Linked DNA regions of Homo sapiens. The protein of the gene in region 1 binds, or shares a complex with, the protein of each later gene. Each region holds a gene or a part of one and is shown on either strand. Other genes may lie near its edges.

Region 1 (7,138 bases):
AAAGGTGTAGTATTTGGGTGAACAGGAGATAGCGTAAAAACAATTGAAATGGTGATCTGTTAGGGTTTTTTACTAAAGGACAAAATAGATGCATGATCAGGGAGCTAATTGTAAGCCCAAAAATGAGAGATTTAAAAATGCTGAAATACACTAAAAGATTAGGAAATATAATTGGCTTTATTGAAAGTACACTTAATTTTTGCTCTCTTCATTGCAAATCCCCCCAATTCTTTTTTCCTTGCAGATGCGTCTTTTTGTTTTCTCTTCTTATTAGGGGATTTAAAAATTTTATTTTCACTCTTGAGGTAAAAATAAATAAACTTGTATTTTTTGTCATACACTTGAAACTTGCGGCCATATGTTGAGTGCATAAGCCTGTGTCACCTTTAAAAAAATAGAATTTTTTTAAGTCTCCAATATAGTTTCTTTTTTTATTTTCTGAGAATTTTCTGGCAATTTTTAGTTAGGGGAAAATAATTTCTGTAAGAAGTGTCATCTTGGCTTGGGTTGTAAAAAAGACACGTGGTTCTGATGCTGACCTTTCTCGATCCTTTGTCTTAAAAATATTAATGCCTACTACCTTCATGTGGAGTTGTGCTCTTATGGAAGCACAAGGCTGAATGTGCATTTATTAAGAAGTGAAAATCCAATTGGAAATATTTCTGCAAAAAACATCTGACTAAGTAGCAGTTTTAATGATCAGAATGTCCATATATCTCATAGTAACATAACAGCTAAATCATTTAATATTTAAATTTTTGAAAGGGTAAAATTAACATAGATGAGGAAGTAGCTGAAAAATTACTTTGAGAATTGTTGATTTACAAGACAATTTAATATCTCATTTTTTAAAAAGCTAACAAACAACTTAACCATTCATTTGTGATCTCAGTCCCATTCATTTTTACCTGCCATTCATTCAAGTCATTCTCCTGGCCAGATGTAGATGGCCTTGCTTCTGTTTGATGGTTTGCACAAAACCTTAAAACTTTTTCTCTCCCAATACTCCTTCCTTGGTCCTTTGAAAATTAGGGTGTTGTTATGAGAGGAAGGCCAGATTGTTGTGAGATAATAACAATAGAATATTTAGAAAGAGAGAGAGAGAAAGAAAATGAACTGCGCATTTGCCTTTTAGTTCTAAACTTAGTCTTGAAATTGGATTTGGGACACTTTGGACTTCAGATATTTTAAACTTAGGATTTCTATTAGGTATAAGCTATTTGAAATTTCACATCTAGAAATTATTGTTTGAATGGTGCTTTGTATGTGTGTGTTCAATATCTCTAAAAGGACTTGTGGATGAATTGAGATGTTTTTCTCAAGTTAGAGTTACTGTGAACAACAATGGGATTTCCTCAGAGTAAGTCTTTTTTTTTTTGGTTTGATTTCTTCCCTTTACACTTATTTCCTTATTATAGGTGGGTTCTTTTCCTATATGTAGGCCAAATACTATTTCTTCCATGAGGAGATATGCTGCTTCATTTAGCCCTGAGCATCTTAACACCTTATTTTAATTTTTTTAAAAAAAGAAACAAATTGTCTGTATGTACCTCAAGTAAGAAATGGTTGTCTTCATAGAGGTCATCATACATAGACGAAAGTACTTTGGCCTTGACAAATTTCTTCATTAGCTCCAATGATCTGTGGCCACCAGGCAGTTAATTTATATGCCTAGACATTTAATATGTACATTTGTTGGTGAGCTGGCCAGAGGATGCTAAACACACGAGTATGCGCTGGCAAATGCTGCAATGCAGTATTTTTTTCCCAATGTCATTGGGAATTTTGGGGCTAGGAAGGGACATGAACATTTTCAAGCTTTTATCTTACTATTGTCCAGTCGATGGGCCATGTTGTACAGATTTGGTCAATTCTCCTTTTGAAAGTAAAGTCAACCTTTTATTTACCACTATCCATTCCCCCATCCATGTAATGTATATGTGGAAAGTGTGTGTGTGCGAGAAAGAGAAGCAGAGAGACTCTGTGTGTATCAGTATAAGTGTGTTGCAGATTCCTGCACCTGTCTTAGGCTTTCCTTATTTGGTATTACTAAACATGTATACACACTTACTTGCAAGTATATGTGCATCTATAAATGGAGAGAAAACCAAACTGGGCTGCTTCCCATAAGAACTGGTTTCTCTTCATGACTCCAAGAGTTCTCATATTAGAAAAATATGAAATTTCAAATATTCATTAAAAAATATATATTCAGACCCTGCAGTCTGTTAGTAACCAAACACCTTTCTTTAGCTGCCACTTAAGAAATTATAAGTGTGCAAATGCATAACAATGTTTGTGAGCTAAAAGCCATCCCTTCAATCAAGGGCCTGGGTATGAATTAAAATGTGTGTATGTGAGTGTATATGGATATGTGTATATGTATGGGGGGCGGTGGGCAGGATGTTTTTCTTTGAGGGCATTTGAACCTAGTCTTTACCATTGGTAAAAATAAGGAGGCGGTAAGATGGAAGTGTTAACATCTGTGCTTTGCTTTGTAAGTTGGTGTGCAAGTGTGTGTGTATTAGGAACATCCTTATATTTGTGAAATCTCCACGTATTTTAGGGGTAAAGGGCTTTTATAGGTCACTGGCTTTCTAAGGGTAAAAAAAAAAGAAAAGGTGATCTGTGGGTGGGTGGGAGTCACAAGCAGTAATTGTCTTAAATTAGCTATTTAGCAGTGAAAAGGAAAAAAAGGCTGGAAGACAAGAGTGTAGAAGAGTACCAACATGTGGGTCTGCATCTTTCCGGTATAGGAGATAATGAGTGATAAATTTGAACTGGTGCAGTGCAAGATGCCCGATAATTTCTCTGAACCTTGACTTTGCAGGTCCATTACTTCCTTGCTTGCTTGTTCACACCTTTAATTATATCCAGTTTGGGATGCTAGCTGGGGGCACCACAGATAAGCCATTTTGTTTGTTGTTTACTTCATTAAGTATTCAGGCAGTGTATTCACAGTAGCTTTGGAGCATCAGTGTTAGGAATTGAGCAGTTTGGAAATGGAATTGTTAAAAAAGAACAAAAAAATAAGACAGCAATCAGCCAGCTAGCTTGCTTTGGATGTTCACATCCACTCTGCTTAATGGTAATATTTATGCTTTCCCTTGCACATTAATTAAGAAATAACTTACGCAGTGTCAGGGCTCTTAATAGGCTGGTGACTTTCTCTCTCTTTCTCTGTCTCTGTCTCCGTCTCTCTGTCTCTCTCTCTCTCTCTGTCTCTCACTCTAGCTCCAGCTGTCTCTTTCTCTCCACCCCACCCTTGAGACTGTCTTTGCTCAGAACATTTTAAGACCAACCAATTTTGCTTTAGGGGAGCTCATATTCAGATCCTTGTTGTATCTAATACCAAAGGTATTTCTCCCCTCAATAAAGATCCCCCTCTACAAGGATCAAGAAATGCTGAGAGCCCTAAAGGAATCCTTAAATAAATTTTGGTTGAGAAAGCAGTAGAAGTGTTGAGGAAATAAGGTCAGTGTAATTTTTGTGCTTGCGTTTTTGTTTTTTGTTGTTTTTGGAAAGTCTTATTTTTAACCCCAAAAGTAAAATGCAAAACTAGCATATGGGATTTTTTTAATGAAAAAAATATATATGTCTTAGGTCTCTCCTGAAAATAACCTCCCTTGGACTCTTCATTTGAAAAATAACATGTAAACTTTAGCTTAATTTTTGAATTACTCATTTTAAACTATAAAATATAGTTCATAAATATTTTTTCCATAGGAAGTTTAGTTCTTTTTTCAGGCTATGGGGAAGCAGAGAAATGACCCAGCGAAGATGGTGAATTCTGAAAAAAACACAGCATGGAGGTTTCCTCTGTTTGCACTTCGTAGCATTGAATCTTCTCCTGCTTCTATGAGTTATCCTTTAGCCCTTAAAGTTGTTTTGCCAACAGTGTTCATAATAGAGACTGACTGTCATTCCTTGTTGGGTGAAGATGTATTTGTTGAGGACTTACTATGTGCATTTCTTTGGAACGTGGAATCCAAGGTCACCATTTCTTTTTCTTTTGACAATGATCAGAAGACATAATTAATTAGAGGATAAGTCCCTGTGATTGGAGATGAAGTTAGGGTGAGGGATTTTTAAGGTGGCACATTGCACAATGAGGTTTGTGTCAAATAGTAAGAAAAGGTCTGCTGGAACATTCAAGTACATAAATGTCTTTCCTTCTGTATTTATAAGCATCTAGGTGTGACTCCAAAAGATAGAAATAAGAGATCTTTTGGACATTTTAGTCTATAAGGTTTCATGTGTCCACATCTTCAGCCTCAGGAAGAAATATAGAAGTTTGGACTGTTGAAAGGAACTTGTCTTTCAGTCAGCAGCCCATGAAGCTTGGCTGAAACTGGTTAATTTTACAGAAACACGAATGTCTTGCCTCCTTGCTTCTGATGTAAGTGGCTTTTTGAATTCCTTTTCCTCTGTTACCTCCCAGGAGCATCTGAACAGATAGTGACCGTTTTGGCATGCCAAATTGGAAGTTTGCTAGTGGAGCAGAAATCATAGTTACTTTGTCATATACATCTAAATACTGTGGTGTGTGTGTGTGTGTGCGTGTGTGTGTGTGTGTGTGTGTGTGTCATGTGTTGTAGACAGCTGGGAGCCCCGGTGTGCCGTGGGATGTGCCAATAATGGCTTCTAAAGTACTCTGTGTTTTCCTAAGCTGCCAGTCTAAACCCTTTAAAGGTTTGCTTTCTAATTTGTACATGAAAAATAACAGGCTGAGTTGAACTTTTTTTTTCAAGTGCCCCCTTTGAAGATGCAGCAGTAGTAAATACTGCTCTAATGATAAACTTTAGTTCTAAGTGCTACTTAAAAGTCTGTAGTAGAAAGGCTGAGAACTTGCCATCTTTACTAATGAAGCTTTCCTTAGGAAAATGCTCACTTAAAAGGGAGTAAATGACCAAGTCCCTGAAATTTGTGATTTTTACCAGATTTGACTTATCTTTTCTTATTTTACTTTTTGTAATGCAGCCAACCACACATCCAAAATTCTTGGTATTATACATGTCTTCAACATTAATTATCTCTGTTGATGCACTGGGTACAGATAGTACAGTTCCCACAAGTCCAGATTCTTACTGTAACACCAAAACAAAAGTGATATTTATGAATAATATTGGGAAAGTTGTCCTCATAGTAACCATTCCCCAAAGGAAGCTTTACATAAATGTGCACTTATTATTCAGGATATTAAAAGGGAATCGTTAGCTTTTACTTTTTAATTTGGGCTAAAATATGTAAATTGGTTTTATTTTGGAGTTTCTCTGTTTTAGGTGACTTTGGGGGAGGATAACTTTCTAGCTTGATTATATTTTAATCACCTCTCTAGTGGAAAAGTTAATCTTAAAAGCAACCTGCTTATTGTGATTAGGACCCAGAGGGCCTGTGTTCAGATGGGGCTAAAAACATATTATATTGACCTGTACACACGTAGAAAAATTAGATTTATTTCTACTAGATACCGCTATTACCATGCCTTTGTTGGCAAGGCTATCTCAGAGACCAGAGAACCGTGAGTCTGCCTCTGGCCTCCGAGGAACATCACGGTGTGCCTGTACAGGCAAGCCTCTAAAAAGATTGTTCTTTGTCTTAAGAAACTGGCAAGTGCAAAGGACTTCAGAGTCAGTTGAACTTAAGTTGGAATCCTAGCTCTTCCAGTTACTAACTGGGCAATCACAGATGAGTTACTTCAACATGAGCCACAATTCCTCATCTTTAAATGGTGATGACAATATCTAACTCACAGGGTTTCTGCAAGAATCAGATGAGAAACAGTATTTGAAGGCACCAGTCATACATAGGACTTGAAAATTGAAGGTGCTTTGAGGGTGTTAAGTCTCTTTCAGTCTGTCAGTCTTTCTGTCCCTTGGCAAAAGCCCTTCCCCAGAAAGAGGCCCATCTGCCCATGCCAGATGTCCTGGGCAGTGACATTGTATGCTACCCTCACTGTCTCCATACTGTCCCCAGCATGCAAGAAGGGTGGCACACAGTGTTGTTGTTTTTTTCTATATAGACAAGCCCTCAGTTCTTCCTCGGAATTGTATGGCTTTATTAAGTTTTCTGCATCCTCCTAGGATTTCACAAGCTGTATCCATGATCTCCTTTGGAATTAGAATTCACTTGGGATTTAGTTGTCAAAAGAGAAAAACGATGAAGATAAAATTAATTTTAACCAGTGCTGTTTTTTTAATTTCATGAAAGAGCCTGTTAGGAAAGTTAAAAGTCAGCCAGAAAGAAAATAAAAATAGGCTGAGCTTAATTGATATGGTCCCATCTTTGCTGTCTGTATATTGTAACTTGCAAATTATTTGACTTTTTCCCAGAAACCAACTTACTTCAGATCTATTTTTTTTCCTTTTCACTGTATCAGCTGTTTTCCTCCTTTCCCCTTGTTTTCCCAATAGGCTGAACTTTGAAGTTCTGTTTCTCACGGAATGGTGAAGAGGTTGAGGCAAAAAGTGGCTTAATGAGATTTTTGTAACTTGCCATCAGTTTTCCTTCTGCTTGGCAAGGCAGCATGATGGATGGCTTTGGCAGTGTGAACACCTCTAGAAGTGATCAGATTGACTGAAGAGATGTGCAGGATGTCAGCAGAATGCTGACCCTCAATTCATTACCCTCCCATTTGAAGGAAAAAAAAAGAGAGAGAGAGAAAAGAGGAAAACAACCACAAAAGCCTTGGCGTAGTTGTTGATTACACACACTTGGGAAGGGGTAATGGGTCGCGTCAGGACTGGTGTTAGGTTAAACCTAATTTTGTACCTTTTCCCCAAGGGTCTGAAGGGGGAAATAAATAAATAGGCACCATAAATTAATTCACAAATTGTTCTAAATGGGGACCTGTTGCTGTGACCTGTTGCCGTTATGAAGAAATAATACAAATTGTCCTGAAGGGATTCAAGATTCAAATTGAAAACACAATCTTGAAACACCGATTTTGAATTCTACTTCATATGCTTACAGGAAGGATATAAAGGGAAGTCGATTTTTTTCTTCAATGTAATCCTTAAAGTAGGGGAAGGGGTTATTAGTTGATCTGATATCCCAAATGCCATTTTGCAGGTCCTATGCTAAAAAAAGAAAGAGAGAGAGAGAGAGAGAGGGAGGGAGGGAGGGAGGGAGAGAGAGA
Region 2 (7,000 bases), on another chromosome or scaffold:
GGAACTATTGTGTCTATAGATCAATATGGCTTGTTACTATGTTTATAGAGCTTGCGATTTAACTTCACATGTTTGAAATACCGTGTTATTGGAAAGGCAATTAGAGTTAGGAGTAAAGAGGCAATAAAATGGGAAGGAAGAAAAGAAGTCTTATTTGTTATTTTGAAACATTTTCTGGAGATGTGTCTAAGGAACATACACTGACACCAGCAGGTTTATTGAAAAGGATATGGATATTTGAACTGAAAGCTGAGTGTTGATGAAAAATATCCAGAATAAGTGGAATTCTAAAATATGTGGATTTTTTCTTTTGCTCTTGAGGATGGTTTAAATTTTAGGGAATAAAGTGAAAAGCAAGAGAAATAGCAAAACGTGATGAAATGGAACTCAAAACATTTATATTTTAATTTTCATGGTGCCCTGTATTTATGAATCTTTTTCCCCAAGCCATCTGCTTGCTTTTAAGTCATTTCTAGGCCCTTTTTCCCTCCAAAATGCATTACTGAGGGCTCTTTTTTGAGTTGGAATGGAGAGGGGGTTTGTGAGAAGACTGGGTAAAAAAAAAAAATCTGTCCACACCCATATTAAATTAGATCTTTTATGTGTTCTCCCCTTCCTGAAATAATTTTTTTAGCCCAAACATTGAGTCAGTTGTGTTTTCTTTGCTTTTTATTTTGGTTGGTGGTGAGAAGGCACTTCATTTTTCTAGAATGAATCAATTTTTGAAGTCTCAAGATTTAAAAAAGAAAGTTTGTTTTCATTAAGTCAGTTTGCTCTATCATTTTGTGTCTTTGAGGAAGTATGTTGTGGTATGTGTCTTTAGTCTGTGTCTGAAAAGTATTTCGTCAGTTAGGTTTGTTACTGACTTTCCATCTCATGGATGTATAGAACAGGAACTAGTTAATTATGACTAATATATTCTAAGCAAAATGAACAACTATACAAATAATATTTTGTGTATATATACTCTTGTATTTTCCTTATGAACTCTTCTTGAGGCATTCAGTTCCAAATGAACTATGATTTCAATTTCTAAAATAATTCATAAAAACCCAACAACTAAATGTTCCTGGTTGTTTTGTTTTGTTTTTTAAGAGGGGGAAATCAAACAAAAGATATGCTGTAGCAATACCTCTTAATGTATTTTGTTCTTAGTTTGAATTTATTTGATACATATAATTTGTACCTTTTTAAGAACTCAAGAGGCCGAACACTATGCATTTCAACTGAAAACAGCAGTTAGCTTGAATTTTTAAAATGAGGTGATACTAATTTCTTAGAGATCACCATCTCAAACCCCCTTAGTGTTGGAATTTGGTTAACAATTTGTGCTTTTTTGTTGAGAATTTGTATATGTTCACTGCCAGATACTGAGACAAAAGAGAAAAACCAAATGCATTTAAAAACAGTTGTGGAAAGGGCTTGTATATGTTTTATTCTGAGAGACTTAGGAGTAGTTGAGGTAAAGGGGGTACCATTTTAGTGTGACTTGATTACTTTGAGACATGATTTGCTTTTTAAGGGAATTAAACCTTTGTTACACTTGCCACTGTGGTGTGCCTTTTTCTAGAGGAATGTGACCTAAAGATAGCATATTCACTGTCAACTGGTGTCATCAAAATAAAAGGTGTTACTGTTAATTAAGAAAAAAATGAAAGAGATGCACTGACTCATTTTTTTTAAAGGTGAAATGTGTTCACATTAAAGAATTCTAAGTTTGGTGATTTCTTTAGGCAGATTAATGGTCCTTTTCCTCTATGTTGACTAAAAATGAGGTGGGCTAACTCCCTTAAGTACCTATTAAACAAAATTAGTTTTATAAATCGTTCATAAAATTGAGAACTCCCAAAAGAAAGTGTCCAAATTTTACAGTTTAATTTTTTGAAGTTAACAGCTTTAAAAATCTGTGAAGGGATGTCTTATAAATGGCAAAAAATATTTTAAATATATTTTAACAATGATTTGTTGAGGCTCTGAAGAAATCACTTGGATCACTAAATGTTTTCAAAACAACCTAAAAATTGTCTTCAGAAATGGATTTGCACTTAAGGAAAAAAGAAAACCTACCTTGTACTTTGGGGCTGAAAATGAATGAAGAGGGGTTAAAAAGGGAATGAAAACTACTAGAGCGGGAGGGTTTTCAGGCACTTTTACTTTAATGGTTGTAATTATGAATTAGTATCCAAGTCAAAAAGAAAGTTTTTAACTCATACGAGGTAAAAGATAACATGTGACTACTATTCAACATGGAAGTTTAAAGTAGAAACAATTGATTACTCTTTTAAAAAGGTTTTCTTATTAATATTAGGTTAGAATTTTTTTTTTTTTTTTGCTTTACATAAGTGAAAAAAATGGTTGAATGTTAAGTTTTTGTGCACTGTTTGGAGGAAAGGTGGAAACTGGGGTACATTCTTTCCCTATTTTAATTTCCACCTAAAAATTAAACTTTGCAAATTCATAAATTAGTTTCCTTCACTGCTGGTAGAAATCCTTAACTGTTCTCATTTGGGTGGTCAGTATTTCAAGATGAGAGTTTTGTAAGGGCAGTGGCAACTGACTGTCCCTTAGAAGAATTGTAGGTTTCTAGAACCCCTTATTTTCTGACCCAAATTAAAAAGATGAAATTTTACCATAATGGTTTCTCAGATGGAGAACTTTTTAGTAAAAAGGGGGAAGAACTGCAAGTCCCATCACTAATTTATTCAAAGTATTGTTAATTGTTGAAAAGGTAAAGTTTTAATGGCACAGCTTTTGGTGGAAAAAAACATAATTATGTTTCAGAGATTAAATACATGACATTAGCAATTGGAAGAACCTTGATTCAAAGGTTCTGAGCTTCTAATCTTTTAAAATTACCTTAATATGTATCATTTTAATCTATGTGTGTGGGTACTTTTAAGGCTTACTTTTTAAGAGTGTATTTATACTATACTTTAATGTGTAGCAGCCAGTTGACAAAGATACTATTGAGGTAGTCTACTGAGTATACAATTTTAAAACATTTTAAAATTCAGATCTGGTTTAGTTGAGTGAGAAGTGGGGAACAGCAAGTGCTATTTGTTGAAGTTTAAAGGTTTTGTGAAGAGTTATTTAGTGGTTAGATCTGTTGATTTTTGTGTGTGGGGTGGTAGTGGTGGTGATGGGGTTGTTAGAATAAGTTTATGAACCAAAGGCATTTGAAGAACGGACATTTTCCCAGCTGTTAGAATTTAAAATAAGTGTGGTTCGTTCCCTATCCTCTTAAAAGATTCTTGAAATGTGGCTAATGTTTTCCAGAAAGTGCAGCTTAGAATTTGGGATGGGAGTGTTAGGGAGAGAAAAGGGGAGGAAAAAAGCAGCAGGGGGAGACTGGAGAAATCAGACGAGTTAGTCCCGGCTTGGAAATTCCAGACGGGGAGGGGGGAGGGAGAGAGGGAGGGAGGGGAGATACGGGGTTGGGTGGATTTCCCGCTTCCCTTTTAAAGGGGAGCGGCTGGAGTCTCACAGTGTTACCCACGGGAGAGGGGTCGGAGACGGGTGGTAGACTCAGCTCAGGGCAAGGCTATATTTGCTTTTGGAGTTGCCGGCCTTCCCTTCCCCTTTCAAAAAAGAGAGAGAGTAGAGAGAGAGAAAGTGGCGGCGGCGCTGCAGGCTCTTCCTGGAGCGCTCGCCCCGGCCCGGCGGCCCTAACCTTCCCCGCCCGCCCCCGCGCCAGTCCCAGCCCGGCAATCTCGTCTCGCTCTGAGGTGGGGCCGCCCGCCTGCCTTCTCTTAACAAGCCCCTGACAGAGAACATCCGCTGGCCTGGGTCTCCGAGGAGGACTTCCCCTCTCAGATCCCTGAGACCCCAGGAGATCCCAGGCCGCTTGTGGTGCGCCTTAGTCCTGGGAACCCCAGATCGCAAACCTCGCAGCAGATACCCCACGAGAGGGTTCCCCCTCACCGGCTGCGGGCTGCGGGCTGCAGACCCTTTCCAGCACCTGGGCTGCCTCAGGAGCTCTCCATTCTAAGGCAAAAAGCCAGTGGGTAAATGTGAAGTGAAAAGAGGCAAGAAGAGAGGAAGAGTAGGTAAAGGGAAAATAGGATGAGACAGTTGGAGAGAAAATGGAAGTGCAAGTAGCTGTTCCTCTCTCCCAGTAGCTGGGGTCTTGGCCTGAGAAATAGAACCTTAAAGAGTTAAGTGTCAATTTAAGTAACCTGCAATCTTTACAAAATGAGCTGTTTGTGTCTGTCCACAGGTCCTGAAGGCTGACCGAAACAATAACAGAGGCAGTAATAGTAGTCAGAGGTTCTATCCATGGATTTTGTTTATCTTGTAAAAGAGAGACAACAGGCCTTCCAGTTGTCCAGGGTCTCAGCCAGTCTTCGACTCCATGTTAGTGTAAAACTTCTGCACCCCATCCATTTCCACCTTTCCTCTCCTCCCCTATACCTTTTTAAATGCCTGTCAAAACAAAAAGCAGAAGGAAAGGTCTCTCAAACCTGTACTCAAGAAAGTGTATGCCCATTTGGTTACCGATAGTTTGGTTAAAAATGATCCTGTAAGATACCACCTGACACACACCATCGCAAGGGCAAGGAGGCAATGCCAGCAGGAAGCTACGTAGTCCCCAGGTAGTGACTTCATTCTACTAGGAGAACTTGGATGGCCCTTCAGATTTTGATCAGAGGAGACTATGTACTTATTACTGGATAGAAGGGGGGTCATCCTACTATTAAAATTTATTGCAGAGCCTGCTTTGTAAGACCTGCTTACTACCTTGCAGCACAGTAGGTTTGCAATAATACAACAGGCTGGAACAAACTTTTGCTCTAACCATAGTTGACTGACAAAATATATGTTGATTACAGGTAAGTCACAGAAAAGTAGGTTTGGACCTCATACTTTTAATACAGTTGGAAAAAACCTGATTGCAACACACTGAAATGTAACTGTGTGCAGAACAAACACCATCAGAAATGCAGTCCTTTTGCATTTTGGGAAATCCAGGTTCCCAGGAGCATGGCTGGTCGTAAGCAAACTGCTTTTGACTGAAATAGAGAGCAAACAGCTCGATGATTAAGAGAAGTTTTGAGTGGATTGTGCAGATATTTTCAAGACCCCTTAGGACAAGTCTGGTTATTAGACAAGTGGCATTTTGGTGGCTGGAAGGCATGTAAGGGATGGTGTCTGATATGGGATGGCTGGAAATTTTGCTTATAGTTTAGAGGAGGGTTGTGGAGAAAAATCCCATAATAGAGGAGGCAGGAGAAGAGGGGAAGCTCTACATTTTCTCTTTCCCTTTCTACCATGTCTGGTTAGTGGATTCTAGTCAATCCTCTCTACATTTCCTTATGAAAAGAAGGTTAAGGAGAACTTCAAATTTTTTTTTTTTCATTTTGAGTTAATTTTGGTTAAAAACTCAATCACTCATTCAGGACAGGCACGGTGGCTCACATCTGCAATCCTAGCACTTCTGGAGGCCGAATAGGGCAGATTACATGAGGCCAGGAGTTCAAGACCAGCTTGGCCGACATGGTGAAACCCTGCCTGTACTAAAAATACAAAAATTAGCCAGGTGTGGTGGTGCATGCCTGTAGTCCCAGCTACTCGGGAGGCTGAGGCCAGAGAATTGCTTAAATCTGAGAGGTGGAGGTTGCAGTGAGCCGAGATCGCACCACTGCACTCCAGCTTGGGTAACAGCGAGACTGTGTCTCAAACAAAAACAAAAACCAACTCAATCACTCATTTGGATGTTTTGGCCACTTGAAATGGAAAATGTTAAGTCTGAGTGAAATTTGATTGGATAGTTTAGTTTAGTTGATTGGATATAGTTAGGATCTTTAAGGGGAGAAATCAGAGAATTCAGAAATATGTGTGTAATGGTTGTTTGTGTGGTCTGACCTCTTTGGCAAAGAGGAACAAGGAGGAAAGGAATCATTCAAAATTCTTAAGGCTCCAGGAGGGAAGAAGTGCTGTTAGGTCAGAGTCTTAATGACCTACCCTAGGTCTCTCACTCATCCTTTACTGGGGTCTGGAGGAAAGGTCTTCCTCCCAGGAGAATTCAGTGTTTAAAAGCTTGAGCTCAATTTCCGTAACTGTAAAGAAGTGGTCCTAATAGTAGTACACAATAGCTCTTATTGTTATTATTTTGTTGTAGATATTGACTTCTGTCCCTCCTGCCCTAGCCATTGTTTGTCCTCCTTTGAAGCTTTACAGTTGTATCCTACCCTGCCCCATATAGCTGTGGTTAGCTCCATGAGTATTAGAACTGATCAAGTGTACAGATGCCTGAAAATGTGTCCATGAGAGGTTGTCTTTGAACTGTGTGTGTGTCAGCTTGGGCTATATATCTAAGGCACTAGGAACAGTGATGGCTAGGCATGTTGAAGGGGATCTGTGCGTAGGGTGCTTTGGTAACTCTACCTGTATGTTGAAAGGAAAAGCCACCTTTTAGTGGAGAGAGATGAAGCTCACCAGGGCAACCCCACAGAGCCCCTAGATTATAGATTCCCCCAGTACATTCTCTGAGACAGAGGCTTGGAGAGATGAGGCGAGCATGGTGGATAATGCTATTAATTGTTCTTTAGGGGAAACAGGCCATTTATTCTGTTATCGTTTATGCCCTGAACTTGGTCCAGGTTCCTAGCTGAAATTTCACACTTTACGGCTACTGTCAAAGGTGTACATGTAGAGTAGGGACATTGGTGAGAGGGGAACTAACTCTGCATATAAGGTAGGTGTTGTAAGAATTCAGGATGAAGGGGACTGTAAGAATCCTCCTGGGGGTCTGAGGAAGGAAGAAATGAGAGTGACCTCCCCCATCTGCTGGGATGGGTATGTTCATTTTCATGTCCTGCTCTTGGTAAGCTAACAAAGTAGGCATTCAGGAACTGGGGATCCCTAGATACCCAGGGGGTGACTGCACACATTGTTCCCTACTTCTTCTGCTTCTGTAGTGTCCTCACATTCTCCCCCTGGTTCCCTGGTCTGGAACCAGTTCCCAGAGATGCACTCAGAACCCACCTTTATGCCCACTTCT

The links. The genes of interacting proteins can lie anywhere in the genome.
Region 2: ELAVL4 (region 1) and IGF2BP1 share a complex: the UniProt entries of both Homo sapiens proteins name them as parts of the TAU mRNP complex.

Annotation. Positions count from the first base shown.
Region 1 is NC_000001.11:50,111,854-50,118,991, forward strand, and holds part of ELAVL4 (ELAV-like protein 4), read left to right. Parts: intron 1-7,138. UniProt on the Homo sapiens protein: RNA-binding protein that is involved in the post-transcriptional regulation of mRNAs. Plays a role in the regulation of mRNA stability, alternative splicing and translation.
Region 2 is NC_000017.11:49,000,385-49,007,384, forward strand, and holds part of IGF2BP1 (insulin-like growth factor 2 mRNA-binding protein 1), read left to right. Parts: exon of another isoform or gene 1-4,422; intron 4,423-7,000. UniProt on the Homo sapiens protein: RNA-binding factor that recruits target transcripts to cytoplasmic protein-RNA complexes (mRNPs). This transcript 'caging' into mRNPs allows mRNA transport and transient storage.